Linked DNA regions of Homo sapiens: all the other regions are linked to region 3. Evidence: fine-mapped expression QTL. A gene starts in region 3. Each other region holds a variant in brackets. All regions are shown on one strand. Distances are from middle to middle.

Evidence for each region. PIP is the estimated chance that this variant, and not a neighbour inherited with it, causes the effect.
Region 1: its variant is fine-mapped to the expression of GLYR1 in whole blood (INTERVAL, PIP above 0.99).
Region 2: its variant is fine-mapped to the expression of GLYR1 in whole blood (TOPMed, PIP above 0.99). The same link has a PIP of 0.9 or more in blood mononuclear cells.

What each region holds. Positions count from the first base shown.
Region 1 is chr16:4,800,691-4,808,864 of GRCh38, forward strand. It overlaps ROGDI (rogdi atypical leucine zipper), which reads right to left and starts at 1,943. Exons shown (of 11, transcript NM_024589.3): 1 at 1,837-1,943; 2 at 1,692-1,763; 3 at 813-895; 4 at 577-631. The coding sequence starts at 1,881. GLYR1 (glyoxylate reductase 1 homolog) reads right to left here. Exons shown (of 16, transcript NM_032569.4): 16 at 2,513-4,620. The coding sequence ends at 4,546. RefSeq lists enhancers at 1,451-1,951, 3,998-4,292 and silencers at 1,457-1,516, 1,557-2,346, 2,239-2,450. The variant A/T (reference allele first, on the strand shown) is at 4,282.
Region 2 is chr16:4,920,428-4,928,601 of GRCh38, forward strand. All of the region lies in intron 1 of PPL (periplakin), which reads right to left. LOC105371064 (a long non-coding RNA gene) reads left to right here. Exons shown (of 4, transcript XR_933028.3): 3 at 2,746-2,918; 4 at 5,249-5,501. Among named protein-coding and RNA genes, the nearest start is that of PPL, 13 kb to the right of the region's middle. RefSeq lists an enhancer at 7,896-8,174. The variant C/A (reference allele first, on the strand shown) is at 3,877.
Region 3 is chr16:4,842,820-4,850,993 of GRCh38, forward strand. GLYR1 (glyoxylate reductase 1 homolog) reads right to left here and starts at 4,469. Exons shown (of 16, transcript NM_032569.4): 1 at 4,409-4,469; 2 at 3,355-3,391; 3 at 2,255-2,334. The coding sequence starts at 4,446. It overlaps UBN1 (ubinuclein 1), which reads left to right and starts at 4,662. Exons shown (of 18, transcript NM_001079514.3): 1 at 4,662-5,391. RefSeq lists enhancers at 3,913-3,972, 4,273-4,332, 4,628-5,470 and silencers at 4,523-5,242, 5,253-5,342.

The sequences.
Region 1 (8,174 bases), 42 kb before region 3:
CCGCTGTATAGGGCAGAGGGTCTCCCAATGCCTTGGCCGTTTGGGGGTTGAACAGGGAGGTCAGGAAACAGGAAACCAGGCCCAAGAAGAGCCACAAAGAAGTGAAATGGAAAGAGGTGAAGAAAGGGGAAGGGGAAGAGGAAAGGCAGCCTCTGTGAGGCTCTGTGCGAACGGGGTGCATCTAGTGTCTACAAAGGGCAACAGATGGAGCCCAGGAGGGGGGCCTCCCCCCACGCCTTGGTGCCTGGCACAGAGTCGGGTGCAGACTGGAGTTCAGGCATTGGCTGATTCAACTGTGATGTGTGGCCAGCCTAATCCACCAATGCCCATGTTTCACTGGTCCGGACGCCAGGCCAGGCCGTGTGCAAAGAACCCCTCTCCTGCACCTCTTACTGAATCTGCACACCGATCCCGGGAGAAGGTGTGAGGGTTGCTGTCATTTTCCAAAGGAGAAAACTGAGGCCAGAGAGATCAAGGGTCCCGCCCAGAGTCGCAGGGCTTGTACAGAGAGAAAGTGGGAGCTCCCATGCTCTTCCCCATTGGCAGGATGGGAGGGGACAGGGCCGGGGGACTCACCGCCTGGCTGAGGGCATCCCCCTGCAGAGTCAGCACACCCTTCACCTGGTCTGTGCTGTAACATGTGGCGTCAGAGCGGTGCCTGTGGTCACCCCCCCACCACCCAGCCCTCCCTCCCGGCGGGCTGCCCCTCCTGTCCCATCGCACAACCAGCTGGTCTGCAGGACAGGGCTATGGCCATGCCTCCTACCCCCCAAGGTACCCATTTCCCCGGTTTCCGCCTAGCCCAGGCTCACCCACAGCTGCCTAGGATGAAGTTCTCTTGCTTGGCGGGCCCCTCAGTGCCGGAGCCCGGCAGAGTGAAGCGCAGAGAGGCCTCCTGTGGAACAGAGGGAAGGAGGGGAGCTGGTAGCGCCCACTCAGGCCCGGCCCAGTGCTCCTTCCAGAAGCCCCCCTCCCTCCAAGTCAGCGGGGGGAAGGAACAACGTGGCCTGGCCTCACCTGGGTTCAGCTGGGGTGGGAAGACCCTGCCCAAGCCCCCAGGGCACCTAACCGTGAGCCCGATCTCTGCTTATACCACATTCCCTGAACACCTCCTGTGTGCCCGCCTCGGGGAATACAAAACAGACAGGGGCAGCCTCCCAGCTTGGTTGAGGGGGAAAGGGGCAAGGGGCAGAGTCAGGGAACAAGGCAGTAGTTATGGTAACCCGCGGTCCTGGGCCACAGCAAGCACTACGCCGGTTACTTCTGTGAGCTGCCTGGCTCATTTATCTACACCCCAGCCTCGCGAAGCGGGTACTGTTATCTCCCTTTTGCCAATGAGAAAAGGGAGGCCCAGGGAGGTTCAGTGACTTGGCTGAAGTCACACTGCCAGGCAGAGGCAGAATTCTTCGGCTCCCAGATTGGATGCCGCTGCTCCCAAGGCGGCCTTCCCCGACCCGAGGCCGGGCGGGACTCAGGCCCTTGCTAGCACCCTCGTCGGGACCCGCCCCTGCCCGCACACAGGTACTTATATAATGAGGTCGGCTCGAGTTCGCGGAGGCGGGGCCCTGCCTGAAAGCCGCGGCAGCCGCACACTGTAGGCGCTCAGGACGCAGCCGCGCGGCCCCAGGTGGAGCCAGGGAAATGAGGAGGGAGGGCCGCCACGCCCGGCGGGGCAGGGCGCGGGTCGTTACCTTGAGGATGTCCTGCAGCTGCTTCAACACAGCGTGCACCTCGTCGTGCAGCAGCCAGCGGAACTCCTCCTCCTGCGGGACAGACCCGGCGGTCGCGCCCGGCCCCGCCGCCCCGCCGGCCCGCCCGCTGGCCCGCGCGCCTTACCAGCACCGCCCGCTCCGCCGCCGTCGCTGCCATCACGGTGGCCATGGCCGCAGGCCGCCGCCGAGCGCCCTCCCCACCGGCCGCTGCTCCTGTCCACCAATCTTTCTGTCCTCGGTCCTCCGGTCCTCCCGTCCGCCCCCGGCGTCTGGCTCCGCCCCCACCCGATTGGCGGAGCGGGTACCACCCCGCCCCCAGGCCGGCTCCGTGCTCGCGATTGGCTGGCGCCTGTCGGTCCGCCTCGGCCCCCGAAACCTGCGGGAGCCCTGGAACCAGACTGGCGGCTGCGGGAGTGAGGCTCGCTCCGCCTGGCCAGGGACGCGGCCGGCGGCTGCACGAGTCAGGCTTGCTCCGGCTGGCCAGGGACGCGGCCGGCACCAGCCTGGGGCGCCCGCTTGGGGGCGGAGCTCCCGGGGCGCCCCCAGGATATGATAGGGCGCTCTGCTCCACTCGCGCTCACTCATTGGCCGGCAGGACAGTCTGTCCCCGCTCCTCCTCCCTATTGGCCCGCTTGGCTCCATTGGTCGTGGTTCCAACCCTGCCGCGGACCTCGCCGCCACTCCCAAGTCCGTCTCACCCCGGACGCGGAGGTCCCGAAAACCCACCCCGGCCCCGCCGCTGCCTTCTCCTCCCACCCATCTCGCCGAGGACGAGGGAAGCAGGACTCCTGCGGCACAGCTGTGTTACCAAGAAGTGTTTTATTTTTCTTGCAGTAGCTTTGTTAATTGCACAAAATCATGTTTTGTTTTTGCCATTTAAACATTATCACACAATCCTATTCTGAAAGACAAATGTTCATTAAAAACAAAGCAAAAATAAAAATTCACAACCTTAATTACCTAGATTTGTCATTTAAAGGTTTAAAGAAAAAAGGGAGGGGCTTTCTTACAAGCTTTTTCACAAGTGTCACATTTTCTCCTTAAAAGGGAAGGATTTCAAAAGAAAGGTGAAATAGCTTAAACAGAAATATTCATAAAAAGGAACTTTACAGAATTGTCAACAATATTAAGACAAAATTGACTAACCGGTTTCATTACCGCATCTTCCCCCGCCCCCACCCCCAGTGTGTTCCGCCAGGACTAGAACAGGCTTTGTGTTCAGACAGAAATGCTTCAAAATCCCAGTGAAATGAACTGTGCTAAAAACCCGACAGGCATCTTCCCTGCCCTCCCCCCACTCGTCTTCTGCAATCCTCTAACCCAGTTTCTAATCTCTGAAAGGGGCCAAAGCTGTGAGGGGGGAAGGACCCCGCCCTAGTGTGGCCACCCTATATATAATTACATATTGCATCGTAAATGCTGGCCTTCCTTCTGCAAATTATGATTTTGGAAAATCCAACCCATGCAGAGGGATAAAAAACTGACATCCCTTGGGTAACTTTTTTTTTTGCAACATTCCAAGCCCCCCCCGGTCCCCTATCCAAGGACAAATGTAGGGCCTCTAGGATGTCCCAGACCCACCTCGGAGGGCCAGTCAGTTCAGGTAGGTCAGGCCCAGTTCTCTTCCCTCCCGACAGACCCCGGGCCCGGGAAGCACCGAAGACCATGATGCTGGCTGGAGTGAAGACACTCGTTTCCGTATCAAGAGCTGAGCCTAAGAAATGCTCATCGTTGGTCAGGCTGGGTCTGGGCCAAAGGGACAGACAGAAAGAAATACTGTCTCCACGGGAGGAAGAGGGAGAGGAGGGAGGATGGAGAGCGGTGGGCATGCAGGGGACTTGGCAGGGCAGGGTGGAGAAGGTGGGACCACTGGGAGGGGACCGAGGTAAGAGTGGCTCTTCAGAGCCAGGTGAAGAGTCTGTGGCCTAACGGAAACAGAAAGGAGCGCCCCCAACCCCCACTCCTCTTGGCTCATCACTAGTGGCCCTGAGGACTCCCTCCCAAGGGATGGAATGCAAATCCAAATACTAAAACAGCCTAGGGAGGAGCGAGCGCCCGCTGTGGCAGTGGCATCTGGGGCATGGCTTCGAGGCGGTGAGGGCCGGGCCTCCATGCTCACCTGCAGGCCGGCTGCTTGCTGCACTCCCTGGAAAGCCAGGGCCCCATCTTCTCGGGACTCTGCCAGTCTCTTTTCAGTTCACAAAGGCGTCTATGGAGCGCTGGGTGCACACTGGACGCTTAGACGTGAACATCTTTCTCAGCTCATCACCTGAGGTTGGAGGGCCCCAAGGGCCCCTCTGTCTGGAGTCTGTACTGGCTCATCTGGGCCCAAGGCCTCTCCTTGTAGGGAATCCAGTGGGGGATGGGGACATGACTACAGCCTCTTCGCTCTGGGGGAAGCTGTGGGAAGGCTTCCAACTCTCGTTGCTGATTCTAGTTCCTTGACTGGAAGGGGTTTGAGATAAGACAAGCTCGGAAGAAAAAAAGCCAGGCAGCAGTTTCTGGGCAGCTTCTATCCTGGGGCGAGAGCCTGTGTGTGTGTGTGTGTGTGTGTGTGTGTGTGTGTGTG[A/T]ACACACAGCCACCTCGTCCGGGGGGCCAGTGCCCAGCTCAAGAGCTTTCCCACACGCCAATCCTGCTGACACTTGTCCCCTCCCCACCGGCCTCAGGGGAAGGGTGCTGCTGTGTGCTGTGCTGATGGCAAGTCTCAAAGTCTGTATAAAAGGAAATGGAGATAGGTGGGCTGGTCCAGAATGAACTCCCAGGCCCCCGACCCCATGTGAGGAAGAGGGGGTCAGAGGGGGGATTGGAGGGGTGAGGGCGGGGTGTCGACAGCTTAGTGTATGTAGGCTCGGTACACGGCGGACATATCGTTGTCAGACTGGTCCAGCGCCTTGGCTCTTTTGTACACCTGGAAAAAAAAGAGATGGCTCAGTCTCTGGCCCCAGAGCTGCCTTCAAGACCTAGACCTGATTCCTGGAGGCAGTGGTGGATGTGGCCAGCAGGCAGTGCTGGAGCCCAGGCTGTCCGGTTAGGAATCCTGTGTTGACCTTGCATGAAGCACCTCCGTTTCTCTGGACCTCAGCCACTGTGCTTCTTGCTCTGGGAGAAGGAACAGTACCCGGGGGATCTTGTGAGAATGAAATACACTATGGGATATAAAACATTCAGCATTGGCCGGGCACTGCGGCTCATGCCTGTAAGGCCGAGGTGGGTGGATCACCTGAAGTCAGGAGTTCGAGACCAGCCAGGCCAAAAAGGTGAAACCTCATCTCTACTAAAAATACAAAAATTAGGGCCAGGCGCAGTGGCTCATGCCTGTAATCCCAGCACTTTAGGAGGCCAAGGTGGGTGAATCACGAGGTCAGGAGATCAAGACCAGCCTGGTGACCGTCGTGAAACCCCTTCTTTAAAAAAAAAAAATACAAAAAATTAGCCGGGCATGGTGGCAGGTGCCTGTAATCCCAGCTACTCAGGAGGTTGAGGCAGGAGAATAGCTTGAACCTGGGAGGCGGAGGTTGCAGTGAGCTGAGATCACACCACTGCACTCCAGTCTGGGTGACAGAGCGAGACTCTGTCTCAAAAACAAAAAAAGAGCAAAACTGTCTCAAATAAATAAATAAATGAATAAAAAATAAAACAAGGGCAGATGAAACACCCAGGACACCTATACCTCAGAGTGAGAGTTCTCACACCTGTGGTGCTTCTGCCCCCAGGGGACATCTGGTAATATCTGGAGACATTTTCTGTCACCTGAGGAGGAGCTATGTCACTGGCGTCTGGTGGGTGGGCTACCCAACATCCTGCAGTGCTTGGATAGCCCCCCCACACAGAATGGCAGCAGTGCCGAGGTTGAGAAACCCTGCCTTAAAGGATGAGGGAGAGGAAGGGGGAAAGAAATGCTTCTGTGTGGTTGCAAAGTTTTTACATTTAATGGGAAATGGTACAAGATTAACTGTCTTTTTTTTTTTTCTTGAGACAGGGTCTTGCTCTGTTGCCCAGGCTGGAGTGCAGTGGTAGGATCATGGCTCATTGCAGCCTCGAACTCCTGGGCTCAAGCAATCCTCCTGCCTCACCTGCCTCAGCCTCCCAAGTAGCTAGGAATAGGGTGCTCGCCACCACGCCCAGCTAGTTTTTTATTTTTTTTTGTACAGATGGGGGTCTTGCTATGTTGCCCAGGCTGGTCTCAAACTCCTGGGCTTGCTTAAGCCTCGACCCTGCCTCGACCCTGCCTCGACCTCCCAAAGTGCTAGGATTACAAGGATCACAAGTATAAGCCACTGTGCCTGGCAAGATTAACTCTATCTTAAGGATTTATACCGCAATCTGTAGAGTAACCACTAAAAAAAGAATGCAGAGGCAAAGTAAAAAAGAAAATAGATAAATGAAACTGGAATTCTTTTTTCTTTTTTTTTTTTTTGAGATGGAGTCTTGCTCTGTCGCCCAGACTGGAGTGCAGTGGTGTGATCTCGGCTCACTGCCAGCTCTGCTCTGCCTCCCGGGTTCACGCCATTCTCCTGCTTCAGCCTCCCGAGTAGCTGGGACTACAGGCGCCCGCCACCACGCCTGGCTAATTTTTTGTATTTTTAGTAGAGACAGGGTTTCACCCTGTTAGCCAGGATGGTCTTGATCTCCTGACCTCGTGATCCACCCGCCTCGGCCTCCCAAAGTGCTGGGATTACAGGCGTGAGCCACTGCGCCTGGCCCCTTTTTTTTTTTTTTTTTTTTTTGAGACGGAGTCTTGGTCTGTCGCCCAGGCTGGAGTGCAATGGCACGATCTCGGCTCACTGCAACCTCCGCCTCCTGGGTTCAAGTGATTCTCCTGTCCCAGCCTCCGGAGTAGCTGGCATTAATAGTGCCCGCCACTATGCCCGGCTAATTTTTGGTATTTTTAGTAGAGACTGGGCTTCACTATATTGGCCAGGCTGATCTCGAACTCCTGACCTCAGGTGATCTGCCCGCCTCAGCCTCCCAAAGTGTTGAGATTATAGGTGTCAGCCACCGTGCCCAGCTGAAACTGGAATTCTAAAAAGAAAGTAAGAAAGGAGGAACAAACAAAAGACAAAGACAACGAACAGAAATCAAATGATAAAATGGCAGCCCCAAATTGAACCACATATCAATACAACTACTAAAGGTCAATGCACCAGTTAACCTTCAGAACCTAACCTCTGAACTCCTAACAGTATAGAGTCTAAGCTCATACCATCCAAACGACCTGAAAGCAGCGAGCTGCATTGAGAAATTAACCTAAAAACTCTGCTTCCAAGCCAATGAATCCTGTAGTCAGGGTGGAGGCAACTTGGAAGTCACTTCAAAGAGAAGCTTTCCCAGCCCAAGCCACATGAAACCCTTGGGAAATAACTATAGTCAGAAATGAGCTTTCATCAAAAAAGACTTATAAAATACACAACGAATTCTACTATCCAGAGAGAATCCACTGGTAGAATGAACAGGGGGGACTTGAAATAGTAATGTAATCTGAAAGAGTCATGAAATAAGTACTCTGAAATGTTGAAACAGACAAGAGACAGAAGACAGAATTTAGGAACAAGGCTGCATGCGGTGGCTCATGCCTGTAATCCCAGCACTTTGGGAGGCCAAGGCAGGCGGATTACTTGAGGCCAGGAGTTCGAGTCCAGCCTGGTCAAAATGGTAAAACCCTGTCTCTACTACAAATACAAAAATTAGCCAAGTGTGGCGGTGCATGCCTGCGGTTCCAGCTACTTGGGAGGCTGAGGCAGGAGAATCACTTTAACCCAAGAGGTGGGGGCTGCAGTGAACTGAGATCATGTCACTGCACTCCAGCCTGGGCAACAGAGTGAGACTCTGTCTCAAAAAAAAAAAAAAAAAAAAATACAATTCAGGAACAGAGAATTATACTATGAAAAGCCAGGTGTCAAAAGAACAGTACTGGCTGGGTGCCATGGCTCACGCCTGTAATCCCAGCACTTAGGTAGGCTGAGGTGGGTGGATCACCTGAGGTCAGGAGTTTGAGACCAACCTGGCCAACATGGTGAAACCGTATCTCTACTAAAAATACAAAAAGTTAGCCAGGAGTACTGGCAGGCACCTGTAATCCCAGCTACTGTGGAGGCTGAGGCAGGAGAATCACTTGAACCCAGGAGGCAGAGGTTGCAGTGAGCCGAGATTACACCATTGCACTCCAGCTTGGGCAACAAGGGTGAAACTCGGTCTCTAAAATAAAATAAAATAAAATAAAATAACATAAAATAAAAGTGTATCAGCTGATAGTACTTTAAAAATACAGCTGCTGTTTCACAAAGTGTCATTTTTATTATAATAATATGGTAAAGACAAATGTTTTTCAGTTGTTTTTTTTTTAGATTCAAATTCTATGAAGATGAGCTAAGAAAGCGGAACTTCTACCCTAAAAAGCTTTTCGAAAGTGTATGTGAAGTTGGATACAGTTGTGCACGCCTATAGTCCCAGCTACTCGGGAGG
Region 2 (8,174 bases), 78 kb after region 3:
TCAGAGCAGCGTCCCTGAAACAGACTTGAGATCATTTATACTCTTTTTAAAATTTTGAAACAGTCTTGCTCTGTTGTCCAGGCTGCAGTGCAGTGGCAAAATCTTGGCTCACTGCAACCTCCGTCTCTGGATTCAAGTGATTCTACTGCCTCAGCCTCCCGAGTAGCTGGGATTACAGGCGCACGCCACCATGCCTGGCTAATTTTTGTATTTTTAGTAGAGACAGGGTTTCGCCATGTTAGCCGGGGTGGTCTTGAACTCCTGATCAGGTGATCTGCCTGCTTCGGCCTCCCAAAGTGCTGGAATTACAGGTGTCAACCACCATACTCGGCCTCAACTAATTTTTTAATTTTTTTGTAGACATGGAGTCTCTCTCTGTTGCCCAGGCTGGTCTTAAACTCCTGAGCTCAAGGGATGCTCCTGACTTGGCCTCCTAAAGTACAGGGATTACAGGCATGAGCCCACTGTGCCTGGCTCATTTACATTGTTTATACAATTCGGGCCTTGCTGGCTGTTTCACCAGTGGGCCTGAATGAGGACCCAGAACTTGGTTGGCAGCAGAAACAGCCCCCTCAGCCTTGTTGACGCTGTGGGTCAGGGGCTGCCTGCTAGATGGGTTTTGCAAGCCTCTACGAGTCACCTCGAGTCGACTGAGGCTGTTTTTCCCTAGCTTTTTCCTTCTGGGCTGGGGATGCCAGAGTCTGGGACAATCCTGAGCAGTCTCACAGAGCCCCATTTTCTTGGCCTGGTCTGCATATGAGGCTCTTGATGCAAGCAAGGAAAAATGGAACCAGCAGGTCAGGAGGCTGCCCGGTTCCTCCTCGGAGTTCCAGGGCTGTGTTTGAGGGTACTCCCAGGGACCAGACAAGGGCTTCCTGGGTCTGAGCCCGCAGGCTTGAGCCTGAACAGCCATCTTCTTGTGTCCCAGGACATACTCAGAGCAGAGGAACCACTAGGGAGGGGGCCTGGGGGCCTCAGATGGCATCAGGTCTCCTGGCTCTGTCGCCAGGAGTCAGAGCCTCAGTAGACACAGCCCGACCTGCTTTATTGATTGATTGAGACTGAGTCTCACTCTGTCACCCAGGCTGGAGTGCAGTGGCATGATCTTGGCTCACTGCAACCTCTGCCTCCTGGGTTCAAGCAATTCTCGTGCCTCAGCCTCCCGAGCAGCTGGAATTACAGACATGCACCACCACGCCCGGCTAATGTTTGTATTTTTAGTAGAGATGGGGTTTCACCGTGTTGGCCAGGCTGGTCTCGAACTCCTGGCCTCAAGTGATCTGCCCGCCTCGGCCTCCCAAAATGCTGGGATTACAGGTGTGTACCACTGTGCCTGGCCCCAGCCTGCATTAGAGGTGGCAACTCGAGGCTGAGGACCCAGTGGCTCAGTAAGCCCAGCTGCAAAGTGGAGAGCTGGGACTCGAACCTAGGACTGTGTGCTGTCCTGGCCGCCAGGACAGCACACAGTCCTCAGAGGGCCAGCAGGGATGCCCGTGAGAGGAGCTGGGACAGAGGTAGCACCCTGGCCTTGACACACCACCGATGCTCCACGTGGGCAGAGAAAGATAACACAGGTGTCTCGGGGGACCCTCGCTCTCCACCTCCTGGGTCTCTCTTCCTGCTTTAATTTTGTGCGGGTGCCACTGGCACTTTCTTTCAGCTGGAAGGGCAGTGTGGCCCAGTGGTTAAGCACCCAGACCAAAGCCAGACAGCCCGGGGTCAAATCCTGCCTCTGCTCTTAATAAACTGTAAATTACTTAGCCTCTCTGAGCCTCAGTTTCCCCAGCTGTAAAATGAGAGTCATCACAGTATGCATGCCACAGGGCTGTGGTGGGGGTGACTGAGAGAACAGATATGGGGTGCTGCCTCTGAGGAGCCCGGCTCTGCCTTGACCTGGGTCCACCATCCAGGGATTTAGGCTCCTTTTAAGGAGCTGATAAAAGCCAGAAGCCAGCTGGGCGTGGTGGCTCATGCCTGTAATCCCAGCACTTTGGGAGGCTGAGGTGGGCAGATCACCTGAGGTCAGGAGTTCCAGACCAGCCTGGCCAACATAGTGAAACCCTGTCTCTACTAAAAATACAAAAATTAGCCGGGAATGGTGGTGGGCACCTATAATCCTAGCTACTGGAGAGACTGAGACAGGAGAATCGCTTGAGCCTGGGAGGCGGAGGTTGTAGTGAGCCGAGACTGTGCCACTGCACTCCAGCCTGGGTGACAGAGCAAGACTCCATCTCAAAACAAAACAAAACAAAAAAACCCTAGAAACAAACAAAAAGCCAGAAGCCAAGGCCTGAAGTTAGAATCCTCCAGCACCTGGGAGATGAAAGCAGACCCCCGGCCGTCCACACTGTTCACGCTGATCCTGGTGCAAGCCCAGACGTGCTTTGCTTCTGCCCTGTGAATGTTGCCTTGCCGGGGCACGTGGAATTCACAACTAACCTCAGAATTTGGAACCATCTCCTCCAACATCTGCGAGGAGAGGCTGGTGCCCATATATGGGTAATGAGGTGTCGGGAGGACAGGAGATCCTGCGTCCCAGATGCCCACTCCCTGGGCCTAGCTGGGGGACAAACGCACAGCCCGCTTCAGCTGTCTTGGGTTTGGGCTAAGGATCAGAGTCAGTAGGTTTGGGGATTTGAAGGGTACAGGGTGTTCCCACTGCTCTGAGAACGTTCTTCCGTCCGCATAAGGGAAACTGCAGAAGGGGAGGGTGGGGAGGACCTGTCTACCCGGTTATGCCAACAGATCCCTGAGACCTGTCCCTGCTTCTCCCTCCACTGGTTCTACCTGGGAACGCGTCTCCTGCGCATCCTCCTCCATCTGCCCCTCTGGCCTCACCTTGATCAAAGTCACCACTTCTTACCTGGCCCAATGCAACAGCCACCCACTCTCTTTTCTGAGAGCATTTGGGAGCACAGGTAAGTTTTAGTTTGGATGATGGGATGATCTGGTTGCATCATACAAAGACCTAAGAGTTGGGGAGATATGCTTCCCGGCCTCCTGCCCCCAGGAGAGACGTGGACCCTCCAAGGACACCATGAATGGCAACCTTCCAGCCATCAGCGACCTGGAAGGGGGCTCCCTGGGTGGGGGTGGCTTCAAGAGCCACCCTTGATGTCTTCAGCTGTACCTGTTCAAGTCACATGGCACCAACTGGCCCATTCTTTCTACCCTGCCTGCAGGGGAGGAAACTGAGGCAGCCTGGCCAGGGCAGGGAACGTAGCCTGTGTTGTGGCTCTAACCCAGGTGTGGGCTCGGGCAGATTCCTTAGTCTCTCTGTGCCTCAGTTTCCTCATCTCTGAGACAGGGATAGGAATTGATCCCACTGCAGAGGGTTGAGATAATTCAAGGAGATAACCCTTATAAATGAAAGCGCTTTGGGTGTGGCCGCACCATGATTAGGATAACTGGGTTTCATCCTCTTCCTCCGTGTCACTGGTGGGGGCCTTGCCAGGGCAGGGCTCTTTGTCTGTTGTTCACTGCCATGTCCGTAGCGCCCATCAGACTGAATGAACTATGCTGGCTTTTGGAATAACAGCATGTATTACTCCACCTGTCTCAGCCTTAATTTCTTTCAACATAAATGGGGTTATCATGCCTGCTTGTCACGGAACAAGCAGAAAGACACTCAACAGCTGGAAAACATTCCCACAGGAGTTCAGGTATTAAGTTGCTTTGTATGCAAGGCCAGCACTGTTCAACAGAAACTGAACCTGAGCCACACAGAATTTACATTTTTCTAGTAGCCACGTGAAAAGAGTAAGAAGAAATGAGCGAATTTTTTTCTATTTTATTTAACCTAATATATCCAAAATATGATCAATTTGACAGGTGGTCAACAGAACATTATTAACGGATATTTTACATTCTCTTTTT[C/A]ACACTAAGTCTTCAAACCCTGGCACACAGACATACGTGCACAGCCCATGTCACGGGGCCAGTAATTACTGAATAGGACTGCGAGATTCTAGGTGATTCTGGGGCACCCGGACCTGCTTTGCTCTAAGCCCGCAGTGACCACAGTCTCTCAGTTCTGCTGTAGGAAAGCTGATGGGCGCTCAGAGCATCTTCCAGTCTCACTCGGTGCCTGGTACCCAGGGACACCTAATAAATGCTCATTCTCTTTGAACCCCGTGACTCCTCCTGCCCACACTCACTGATTAGATGTCTGCCCCAGGACAGGGTCTCCTCTGTGGGTCCCTCCCTGGCTGCCTGACTCCAAAACAACCTGGGGCTCCCCACTGTGCCCACTGGAGCCTGGTGCCTGGGTGTGGAGGACCCTGGCACGAAGACCGCAGCAAGACACCCTTCCCCAGGTCCCCAGAGCCCCTGCAACCCTGTCCATAGGCCATGGGGCTGTGCTGGAGGCACCTGGCCTGCTCACAGCCATCCCCTTCTCCAGGCTGCGAGAGCAGCCACCCCGGTAACAGATCATACTTTAGCAACATCGGAGGGGCCACGTTCCTGCCATCACCTCCACCCCAGCTGTCCCTGTCGCCCAGAACTGCTGTGTCCCCTGCTGGCTCACAGCCCAGCCTGCACTCTCCTCCCATGTGTGGACACAGGTCCCTGCAGGCTCAGCACTCCCTGCCTGGCCAGGGCCACTGGCCTTTGATCACATCTGCAGTTCCTTCCTCTGGGGGTTAATTCTGTCTCAGTGGGTGTGTATTGGGGTTGCATTGCTGCTGGAATGTCTGGAACGCACAGGAGGGTACACCCCTCCCTGGAACCAGCCTCACCTGTCCCAGAGCCCAGAGAAGGGGCTGGGCCTCCTGCCACCACGGTCATCCTCTTCTGGCGTCCTGCCTGCCTGGAGGGCCAGCTTGGGGGAGGTGCACCTCCGGTGCCGAGTAGCCCTCTGCCCCTACCTTCTTTAAACACTGCCTGGCTCCTGAAACATCTGCCCTGGCTCTGACACAAAGGCAACCACCGTGGACACTCAGGAAATAACTGATGAATAGTAACAACACTGAGGGCACCTACTGGGTGCCCAGCGACCGCTCAGTCCTTTTGTGCATCACCCATTGACGTCTCATAGCCCTAGGAAGTAGCCACCCTTAGTGTTACTGGGGCTCTTAATCCTACCTATTAGGCTATTAAATTTTTGGACAAAAAGAACTTACTCACCTTTTTGGGGGCCCTTCTATAACCTTAATTCCACACCTTGCGTAGGGCTGGGCTCAATAAATAGGTGTTGAACTGAGCAGATGTTTTAATGCAATTCGGTAACTCTTATGTCTCTGTGTTCTAGGTGAAGATAACTGAGGCTCACAGAAGTTAAGAAACTGGTCCGAGTTTACACAGCTGGGAAGTGGTGGTGCCAAGATTCGAACCCATGAAGACGGGCTTCAAAAAGCCACCTTCTCAGTACAAAGGGGACATCAGTATCAATCCACACCCACCCCTTACAGACAAAGGGACAAGAGACATCGGAGAGACAGGATGATGGGACCAGGCATTCACCACCCAGGGAAGCAGAGTGATTTACAGTTTGTTGTCATTTTCATCAGTACAATTAATCCCAGTGGTTGGTTGGGTAAGGATTAGTGATGGTAAACGGAGACTGAGTCATTCTCCTAAGTTGTCCCCACAAGGGACTCCCAGCCTGTCCCTCCAAACAGACCTTTCAGGCGGAAGCAACTGCCATTGAGTGAGCACCTTCCTGGCCCACACCCTACCCTAGCACCGGAAGCAGGTTTCATCTCTGATCCTTATAACAACTAGTTGAGGTACGTGCTATCATAGCTCCATTGCAGATGAGGAAACTGAGCCTCAGGAAGACCACTTGCTCAGGGTCAATAGGTTAGTAAGAGGTCTATGCTTGTAACTGCTGCAGCCCCAACTGGGCACTTTCTAGATATTCAGTAATTGCCAAATAAATTTTCGACCCCACCCCACCAACTCTTTGTCATCTCTCTGCCCCTTACAGGCCCTGGCAACAGGCCCTTCACCATTAACAAGCCCCCAGAGATATGAATTGTCCACATGCTATAAAATACCTGCTCAATTTCACACCTATTTATGGAGCCCCAAGCTTATGTAAGGCCTGGAATTAAGGACAACAGAAGGCCCTCTCCCAAAAGATGAGTAAATCCCAACTATTCAAAAGCTTGTAAGCTAGTAGGTAGGTTAAGGAAAAACACCCCAATGGGTATAATTACAAAGATTTGGCTTGGCGCGGTGACTCATGCCTGTAATCCCAGCACTTTGGGAGGCCGAGGCGGGCAGATCACGAGGTCAGGAGATTGAGACCATCCTGGCTAACATGGTGAAACCCCATCTCTACGATAAATACAAAAACAAAAATAGCCGGGCGTGGTGGCAGGCGTCTGTAGTCCCAGCTACTTGGGAGGCTGAGGCGGGAGAATGGCGTGAACCTGGGAGGCAGAACTTGCAGTGAGCTGAGATTGTGCCACTGCACTCCAGCCTGGGCAACAGAGCAAGACTCTGTCTCAAAAAAAAAAAAAACAAAAAAAAACCAAAAACAAAGATTTTAGATCACTTACACCAGGGTATTTTCATCCACTGTGTTCCATTTAGGCCTTATAATCTAACTTTAATGATGAAAATATACTCAATCCAGTAAAAACCAGGAAAAGAGCAAAATGGAAACAAAGGGAAAGCATGATAAATAGGGCACTATGGTGGAGTAGGTTCAAACACATTAGTCATTACAATAAATGTAAATGAGTTAATTTTGCCTATTAAAAGATAAAAGACTCTCCGGTGAGATTACAAAACACACACCTTCCCCAAGCTATATGCCATTTTATAAGACACACACACTTGAAACTAAATGATACAGGAAGGTTGAGAATAAAGAATGGAGAGTGACATACCAGGCAACTGATACTGAAGAGAGAAAGCACTGTCCATATATCTCAAAGACAAGAGGGAGCGAGGCAATCCATGTAACTATGTGGTTCCCAACAGCTGCACATCAAAAGAATGATGTCTGGACCCATGTCCATGGAGATTTTGACTTAACTGGTCTTGGAAAGGGCTCTGACATGCTGTTCAAAACTCCTCAGGTGATTCTAATGTACAGCCAGGGATGAGAACAAGGAACTGAACCACAGCAAGGTTTAAAAGAAGCAAGATGCCGAAGAATCCTAGATCTCTATAGGAAGGAAGCCCTGTGAGAAAGCAGTACACAGAATGTGCCCAATGAATACCAGATTGATTGGTCAATTGACTGATTCTCTCACTACTAGAAACTCCTGTGCTAATTAGACAGTAAATGTCCTCACACCCAGCTATTAATCCTGTGGAAATATATCCTAAGATGAGAAGGTTGCTGGTGTAGTAATTCCAGGTCTGTTTTTAAGGCCTAATCTGTTTCTGCCCAGGGAAGGCCGCCCTGCCTCCAGGCCTCTGATGGGGCCTAGGGTTCTGTGTCAGGTGAGTGCTTTTGGGCTCCTTTTACAAACATACAGAAGTTCAAGCTGCTTCAGGTAACACCAAGGCAGGTCTTGAAGACAGGGCAACACAGCAAGACCCTATTTCTACCAAAAATAAATAAATAAATAAAATTAGCTGGGCATGGTTGTGCATGCCTCTAGTCCTGGCTGCTCAGGAGGCTGAGGTGGGAGGATTCATAGCTCACTGCAGCTTTGAATTCCTAGACTCGGGGGATAAACAGGGCTCAAGCCAACTTTGGTGCCCCAAGGCATCAGGATGTCACTCTGGGTTCAGGACCACTGGAGAAAGAGCACCAGCCTCCTTTTTCATTTTTTGAGACAGAGTCTTGCTCTGTTATTCAGGCTGAAGTGCATTGCTGCACTTCACTCACTGCAGCCTTCAACTCTTGGGCTCAAACACAAAATATATTTTGTATTTTTAGTAGGGACAGGGTTTCACCATGTTGGCCAGGCTGGTCTCCAACACCTGACCTTAGGCCTCCCAGAGTGTTGGGATTACAGGCATGGGCCACTGTGCCCGGCCATCTCAGCAGTTCTTACCCAGACACTTTGAGAGGGCTGGCAGGGTGTCCTGGCCGCCCCGCCCATCCTTTCCTAGGCAGAGGGTTTTTGTCATGCTTTGTAAGATAAAACACACCAGAGCTGCTGGCTGAGCCTGCAAGGCCGCAGGGCTGTGGGAGAAATAGAACTTGCAGAATTTTTTGCTGCCCCCACTGCCTGGGCTAGGATTTCAGGCTGATACCTTTTAGGGTTTCA
Region 3 (8,174 bases):
TTCCTGAGTAGCTGGGATTATAGGTGTGCACCACCACACCCGACTAATTTTTGTATTTTTAGTAGAGACAGGGTTTCACCATGTTGGCCAGGCTGTTCTCAAATTCCTGGCGTTAAGCAATCTGCCTGCCCCGGCCTCCCAAAGTGCTGGGGTTACAGGCATGAGCCACCATGCCCGACCATCATTGTGCACATCATCTTATCTGAAATGTTTACAACTTGTCACTTGACTGAGCATCTGGAAGGTGGGAACTATAATACTTGCTTTCTTATAAATTCCCTCAGTGTCAAGCAATTCAGAAAGTGGACACATAACACTGATGTTATGCATGAGGACAATCTTTCCTGTTTTTCTTTTTCTTTTCTGAGACATAGTCTCAGTCTGTCACCCATGCTGGAGTGCAGGGTCTCGAACAATCTCTGCCTCCTGGGTTCAGGCAATTCTCGAGCCTCAGCCTCCCAAGTAGCTGGGATTACAGGTAGACGCCAACACTCCTGGCTAATTTTTGTATTTTTTGTAGAGACGGGGTTTTGCCATGTTGGCCAGGATGGTCTCGAACTCATGACCTCCAGTGATCCACCCACCTTGGCCTCCCAAAGTACTGGGATTGCAGGCCTGAGGCACCATGCCCGGCCAAATCTTCTTTTTAAATCCATGGAGTTCTAAGAACATTCCCTCTTCCAGAAGCTCTGGCTCCACAGCTCCAGGCCAGCGATCTCCTTGAAATACTGCCACCACAGGCTGCTAAGCTGGCTTGTGATAGAGAAATGGGGCTGGGTCTATCTGTAAACATGAAACCAGGAAGAGCATCTGACATATAAACTCCTGGATGAGTGAAGAATACTGTTTATAATATATCGCTTTCTAAGTAGAAATACTTTAACCGTCAGAATTAGATTTACCAGAGAAGCCACAGACATTTTTTTCAAATCTAAGGCTGTATTTTCCTATAAGAATAATAAATAGAAATACAACTACTTAAAGAAATCAAACCGGCTGGGCATGGTGGCTCTTGCCTGTAATCCCAGCACTTTGGGAGGCTGAGGGGGTTGGGGGGGGGAGGGGCAGATGACTTGAGGTCAGGAGTTTGAGACCAGCCTGGCCAACATGGTGAAACCCCGTCTCTACTAAAAAATATAAAACAATTAGCCGGGTGTGGTGGTGTGCGCCTGTAGTCCCAGCTACTCGGGAGGCTCAGGCACCAGAATCACTTGTACCCGAGAGGTGGAGGTTGCAGTGAGCTGAGATCATGCCACTGCACTCCAGCCTGGGTGACAGAGTGAAACTCCATCTCAAAAAAAAAAAAAAAAAAAAATCAAACCATCTAGCTAGACCCAGGTAAGCCACTTGACATAGTGATAAAAAGCTAAACAAATCACTAGCAACTCAAGTTAATACAGGTTCTTCACGTTCTTCCCGTCACTGTAACATGTTATATGGTCAGAGTCTCAGATTAATGGTCCTGGTTTCCCCAACTTAGGACAGATCTGGTAAAAAGACTTACTATAACAATGTCAAAGCAAATCACTTAGTTTTACACATGAGAACATGATTGAACAATTACTTTTATTAACATAAATAAAAGTTTCCACTGTATACCCCAAGCATGAACCATAATGATATATGGCATTAAAAGAGAACTGAACATGGCTTTTATAAAAATAATTGCCAGCTGGGCGCAGTGGCTCACGCCTATAATCCAGCACTTTGGGAGGCCAAGGCAGGTGGATTGCTTGAGTCCAGGAGTTCAAGAACATCCTGGGCAACATGGTAAAACCCCCTCTACAAAAAATTAGCTGGGCATGGTGGTGCACACCTGTGGTCCCAGCTACTCGGGAGGCTGAGGTGAGAGAACCGCTTGAGTCAGTGAGGCAGAGGTTGCGGTGAACTGAGACTGCCTCTGCACTCCAGGCTGGGTGACAGACTAAGTCTCTGTCTCAAAAACAAACAAAAAGGAACTGCCTTTGGAGTTGGGTAAAGAAACATGTGAGAAACTGTTTCAATGTGATTGTTATAGTTAGAAGGTAAATGAACCTAGTTCTTGCCTGACTTAGTTATAGACCTAGGACAGTTGTCTAGGGCAATTTCTGCAAGAAATTGCACCTTTATTTAGGTATGAAGGCAGAATGAGATGCCAGTATTACACATTATAAGAAGACTGAACTAAGGATCCTTAGAATATTTTCAAAGCAGCTCAGACTCCAGGTAACACAGAAAGAAAGGCGAAGGGAGACTCCTGGTGAGTACTACTCACTGATCTTCTGTTCCAAAAAATTTCACAAAGAAGCATTTCTTTCCGCGAGGTTTCTTCAAGTCCTTTGGTGGATTAACAATCTGGAGGATAAAAGGGGGGAAAAAGGTTGGCTGGCAACACAGCAGCCCACTTTCTAGTGGCTCCACATTGCTCTACAGTTCTACGTTGCTAAGAAAAAAGTAAATTAAAAGGACTTACTTACAAATAAATTTATTTATATACAAAACAGAACCCAAGGCCTAGTACTTGTCTAAATCTCCCATTTTTCTATTGAGGTGTATGGAAATGTGTAGATATTCTAGAAGTTCCCAATATTTAACATGTAGCACAGTGCTCAGTAGACACAATATCCCTTTTACTGCAGTGGCCCTGTTTTACAAGCAGTTAAAACTAAGATCAACAGCATCCCCTGCCCCCCACCACCCCACCCCTGCTCCAATGTGACCCCATTATTACTGAAAAAATGCAGACGACACTCTTTGAAATACTTCCTGTGCAGGAAGGGTTGACACAGGACATAGTGAAAACAAAGGACAACCGAGGCACAGAAAACACCATATTGCAAAGAGACCATCTAAAGACACCTCCCGGGCTCCAAGCAAGAATATAAAAACACAACATTTGGAAAGCAATGATGGATCACCTCATGCAAAATCTGGAATGCCAACTTCTGCAAAGAGGCACTGGAGTAGCACATATGGTAACATGGAAAGAAGATTTAAACTTAGTTGGGACAAAAATACTTTGGCTTTTCACTAACCTACATTTAGACTTTCTTCCTGGATAATTTATATTTTCTTCTCCTTTTGTTACATTTAAGCATAAAGCTAAATTCAGACTAGAATTATTTCCGGGGTTAAAAAAGAAACTTCATAAACCTCCTCTAAATCCAGAAATAAGGGTTTAGAGAAGATTTAATGATCTGGTGTATACTGCATTGCCTTTTAAAAAATAACCGATACTAGGGGAAAAAAAATTCTAAGTGCCATCTGAATGAGCCCAATTTAACTCAATACTAGAAACTGAGAGGAATGCATCTTACATTCTCCACCTCTTCAAACCCAACTTCAGATCTCTTCCTTTAGTAGCAAGACACTCACCTTTCCTGGCCAAGGAGGATATCGGCCGAGTTTCCCCCTAGAGAAAACACAAAGAGTCAACACTTGCCCTGCAAAAGCCAGTCCATCTCCTTCAACCCACTCAATACGCAATTTATTTTCCTAAATCTCTGCTGGCATCCTCAAATGCCGAAACAAAAGCTTTCATAGCTGGGCCCAACACCCTCAGAAGTAAAATGCAAAATTGTATACTTATGTGCACAACGCATATCCATTCTTCTGTTGACAAGGAATACAGAACAACACAACTGTCAAAAGTCACTTGTCTAGAGCTTCTTAATGACGGGGGTGGGAGGACAGCTTCCTCTGTAAACACAGACTTTCCCTCCCTAAGTCTGGTTTAATTCAACAGGAGACCTGCCTGGCTTTGACAAATGCTAATGGAAGCCTTCCTCTGGGTGGAGAAACAAGCTACGCAGCTCGAGGGAGGCGGCGACAAAGTCTTGGTTCGGGCGGTTGTCTGGGACACAGAAGCAGACCGCGGGAGGCACCCAAGCGTGCACTGGTCACTGCCAAGCCATCGGTTGTAAAGGAGAAGTCCCCCCGCCGTTTCTTCGCGGGGCAACGCCAGCAGTCCGGTTTAGACAACCCCGGCTGAGCCGGCCGCACAGGTCGGCTGCATCGCAACCTGGGCTTTGACCGAATGGCACCGGCCAGATCTCGCAGGTCCGGTCCCCGGCGCTTCTGCTTTCTGGGAAGCCCCAACAAGACCCCGGGGACCGGTCGTCCGGGGAAGCCTCGCGGCACCGGCGGCTCCCTTCACGGGGGCCGCCAGTATCTGGGCCCCGAGTGCAGACCCCACCCGGCCGGCCTCGGGGATCAAAGCCGGTGCCCGACGTGGCCACCCTCGGCCTCGGTCCCCCGGGACTGGACTGCCCCTTCCGCCTGGCGCCGCTCGCAAGCGCCGGCACCTTCTCTTCCCCTCTCTCCGCGACCTGGAGCGCATAAAAAGGCAGCTCCAGGGCCGGCAGCGAACCCCGCGCCCAGGCGGGTAGCTCCCCGGCGCGTCTCGGTTGGCCCGGCCGCTCGGACTCACCACACCAAGTCGCCGAGCCGCAGACTCACAGCCGCCATCTTACCACCCAACCACCGCCGACGCACGGGCCGCCGGGAACAGCAAGTCGCCCCGGCGCCGCCCATTGGAGTGGGCCCGACCACGTGACGGGGGCCGGCTGTCACTGGCCACGCCGCTACTCTGACGTCACCGCGCCCGCCGGGGATCATTGGTCGACCGAGGGGCACGTGACGCGAGCGCCGCGGTCTCCGCGCGCCGGAGCGCAGAGACTCCCGGCTCCTTCCCCCTCCCTTCGGCTCGTGACAACGAAGCGCCCGCGGTCTGAGGCGGCGGCGGCGGCGACGGTGCGACCGGCTGAGCGCGAGAGGGAGCCGGCCTCGCGGCTCGCCCCGCCCCCGGGTCTTGGACTCCGCGCCCCTCCCCTCTCGGCGCTTCCGTTACGCCCGTTGGTCCGGCGCGGGCCCCGGGGCCATTCCCGAGCCCGAGGCGCTGGTCGGCCCCGTCGCAGCGCCAGTGAGCTACCCTGACGGAGCTCGGCGCGGCCTGGAACTCAGCCTCCGCCGGGTCTGGGCTCCCGCGCCCGGCAACTCTGCTTGGCCGCAGGCCGGGAGGCCCCGGTGTCCGCGCCCGTCCGCTCCCGCCGCCCGTGTTCTTTGGAGCGCTCCTCCCGACGGCCGCTTTCGGAGGCGCCGTCTGAGCGCGGGGTCCCGCGCCGCAAGTTCTCCTGGGGCGACCGGAGGCTGCTCCCCCGACCCCCTGGTGTCCCCGGAGTGGCTGCGCGGACGTCGAGTTGGCATTTCTTCGCTTCCTCCTGGGCCGGCGCGCGGCGCGGCACACCAGGCTCCCCTGGGCTCGGGGACCCGGCCATGGGCCGAGGCGCGGGCCGCCCGCCCGCTGGGAGCCACGGCTTAGCAGCCGACCGCTAGCTGCGCCGCCGCCCGGGGACCGGCATGAGGACCGCCGCGGGGGGACGTCTGCGGCCCGCGTCGGCGCTGGGGACAAAGGTGCGTGTCGTTGTCGGGTCCGGGCTCTCTCGTTAGCCTTGCCCTAGTTTTGCACTTTTGAAAAAGTTGTGACAACAGGAAGACAGATGCCGGGCGTAGTTTGGACACTTTAAAACTGAACCATGAACTGGGAAGTGTTAACTGCAGTTGAGCGCAGCGTCGGCCCAAACTTCAGCAGACCAGGTAGAATCACAATTTTGCAAAAGATCCCAGTCCCGATCACAGACTCCACAGTGTTAAGGATTGACTTAGACTTGGTGTCGGGCTCTTGTTGAGTCACTGCCAGCTGGCAAAGGTGGCGAGTCGACACGCATTTCCCCAAGGCATTGTGGTGGTTAGAGATTTCGGTTGCAAGTCGGTGTTTAGCGTACTGGGTCGTCCCGCAGCCTGATTTTTCTTGGGAGATCAGTTTCCCTGAAGTACCAAGAATTAGCTGCACGGACTGTCATTTACTGCGTGTGTATTTTTAAGACAAAGTGATCTTTAAAGCGTATTTAAGATTCCAGGGAATAATTTGATAAAAATTTAACATAAGTTCCTGTTTAAAAATTCTGAATTTGTGAGGAATTGAATGAGATTTTAATAACTTAAATAAAAACATGAATCTTGGCCGGGCAGGGTGGTATAAGCCTGTAATCCCAGCATTTTGGGATGCCGAGGCGGGTGGACCACCTGAGATCAGGAGTTCGAGACCAGCCTGGCCAACACGGTCAAACCCAGTACTCTACTAAAAATACAAAATTAGCCGGGCGTGGTGGCGCATGCCTGTAGTCCCAGCTACTTGGGAGGCTGAGGCAGGAGAATCGCTTAACCCGGGAAGCGGAGGTTGCCGTGAGCCGAGATTATGTCACTGCACTCCAGCTAGGCGACAGAGCGAGCGAGACTCGTCCCCCCGCCAAAAAGAAAAAAGAAAAAAAAATCTCAAATGAACATTGCACCAAAACCTAGAGGCATTCCCCTTAACATCAGAAACATGGTACATTTCTACCACTATTAGATAATAAGAATATATTGCCTAAAACCTGAAAGTTCTAGCCAGTGCAGTAAGACAGGAAACAAAAATAAGAAATGCAATTTTTGGAAAAGGGAAGACAGAATTCTCATTTCCGTGGATGATAGGTCTGCCTATTTTGAAAACAAAAACAAAAACCAAAAAACCCATTAAAATAAGAATTCAGGAAGGGTACTCATTATAAGTTGGAATGCACAATTTAGTTTTTCTGTTTCATCAATAACCAGTTTGAAAATACAATGTTTAGAAGGAGATATATATATATATAGTAAGAAAAAATTAAAAATTGCTGAGGATAACCAAGGGACAAGGAAGGCTAGTATTTTCTCAGTAACACCAACTGAGGTTTTTAAAGGGGGATCTTTGTTTTTTTCTTTTTTTTGTTTGAGACGGAGTTTCACTCTTGTCGCCCAGGCTGGAGTGCAGTGGCAGGATCACGGCTCACTGCAGCCTGGACCTTCCCAGTCTAAAGCCATCCTCCCACCTCAGCCTCCTTAGTAGCCAAGACTACAGGGGTGTGCCACCATACCTGGCTAATTTAAAAAAAATTTTTTTGTGCAGATGAAGTCTCATCATGTTGTCCAGGCTGGTCTTAAACTCCTAGGCTCCAGCGATCATCCTGCCTTAGCCTCCCAAAGTGCTGGGTCCGGGAAGTTGAGGCTGCAGTGAGCTCTCATGGTGCCACTGCACTCCAGCCTGGGCAACAGGAGTGAGGCAACTGTCTCACAAAAAAAAAAAAAAAAACCACAAAAAAAGCTAAAATCTTTCCAAGGACTTAGGCAACTCTCGTAAGTCTAATAGATAAATGTAAGTTTTTTTTAAGCATTCAAACATGTTTGAACTTAATTATATTTTCTTAAGCATTTTGAATTATGATTGTAAGTCTAACGTACCATTGTTAAATATATTGGATTCTCTTAAATGTTTCAAATGGCTTAGTAACAGCAGAACATTATAATGATTATAAAACAACCCCAAATCTAAGTGGTAATAGAGTACAGATTTGACTCACTTTATCCTGTAGTCCTATTTTTTACCTTCTTGGGCCTGGAGAGTCACTTAAGCAACTGAAAGGAGCAGTTTTGCCATCTAGGATTGAAGCTGCAGTCTCTCAGACTTGGACTGAGATAAGGTTATGTGTTTACTGCCTGGACAGGGGGAGTAGGACCTGGTTGCCAATTCAAGGATGACCTTCCTGCATCCCATTGGTTAACTTGCTGATTCCCTTCTTATAGTGAGACTGTTCCGGTTCTATCAGTGGGGGAATCTGTAAGCCTTCAGCTGGGATTTATTTCCACAACCCAGCGCATCACAAATATCCTGAGGGCCTTGGAGATTTCTTTTAGGGAAATCTCCTTTAACATCTTAGTACGTGTTGGGAGATGGTCTTTTGCAGCGCCAGCCTGTTACACTGCTAATCGTTTTGCCGCCTGATTAGAATTATTTTAACTCTTCATTTGTAGATATTTTGTTCCCTTATGTGATGTTATAAGTTGATTTTGTGATCATAATTCGACAAATGAATATTGGATATATACAAATACGTCTACATGTATGTGGATATATACGATATATGCTAATTTTCCTGAATTAACTCACATTTGTGATTGATTTACAACCAAAATACAGTGAGTTTTTTTGAAACCTGCCAAAATAATACATAGGCTGGAATGGCAAAGTATTATTTATAAAGAAGGATAATAAACATGAGCTTTAACTTTGCAACATTAAAGTATGAAACTTTACAAAACAGTGCAATACTGATTAAAGA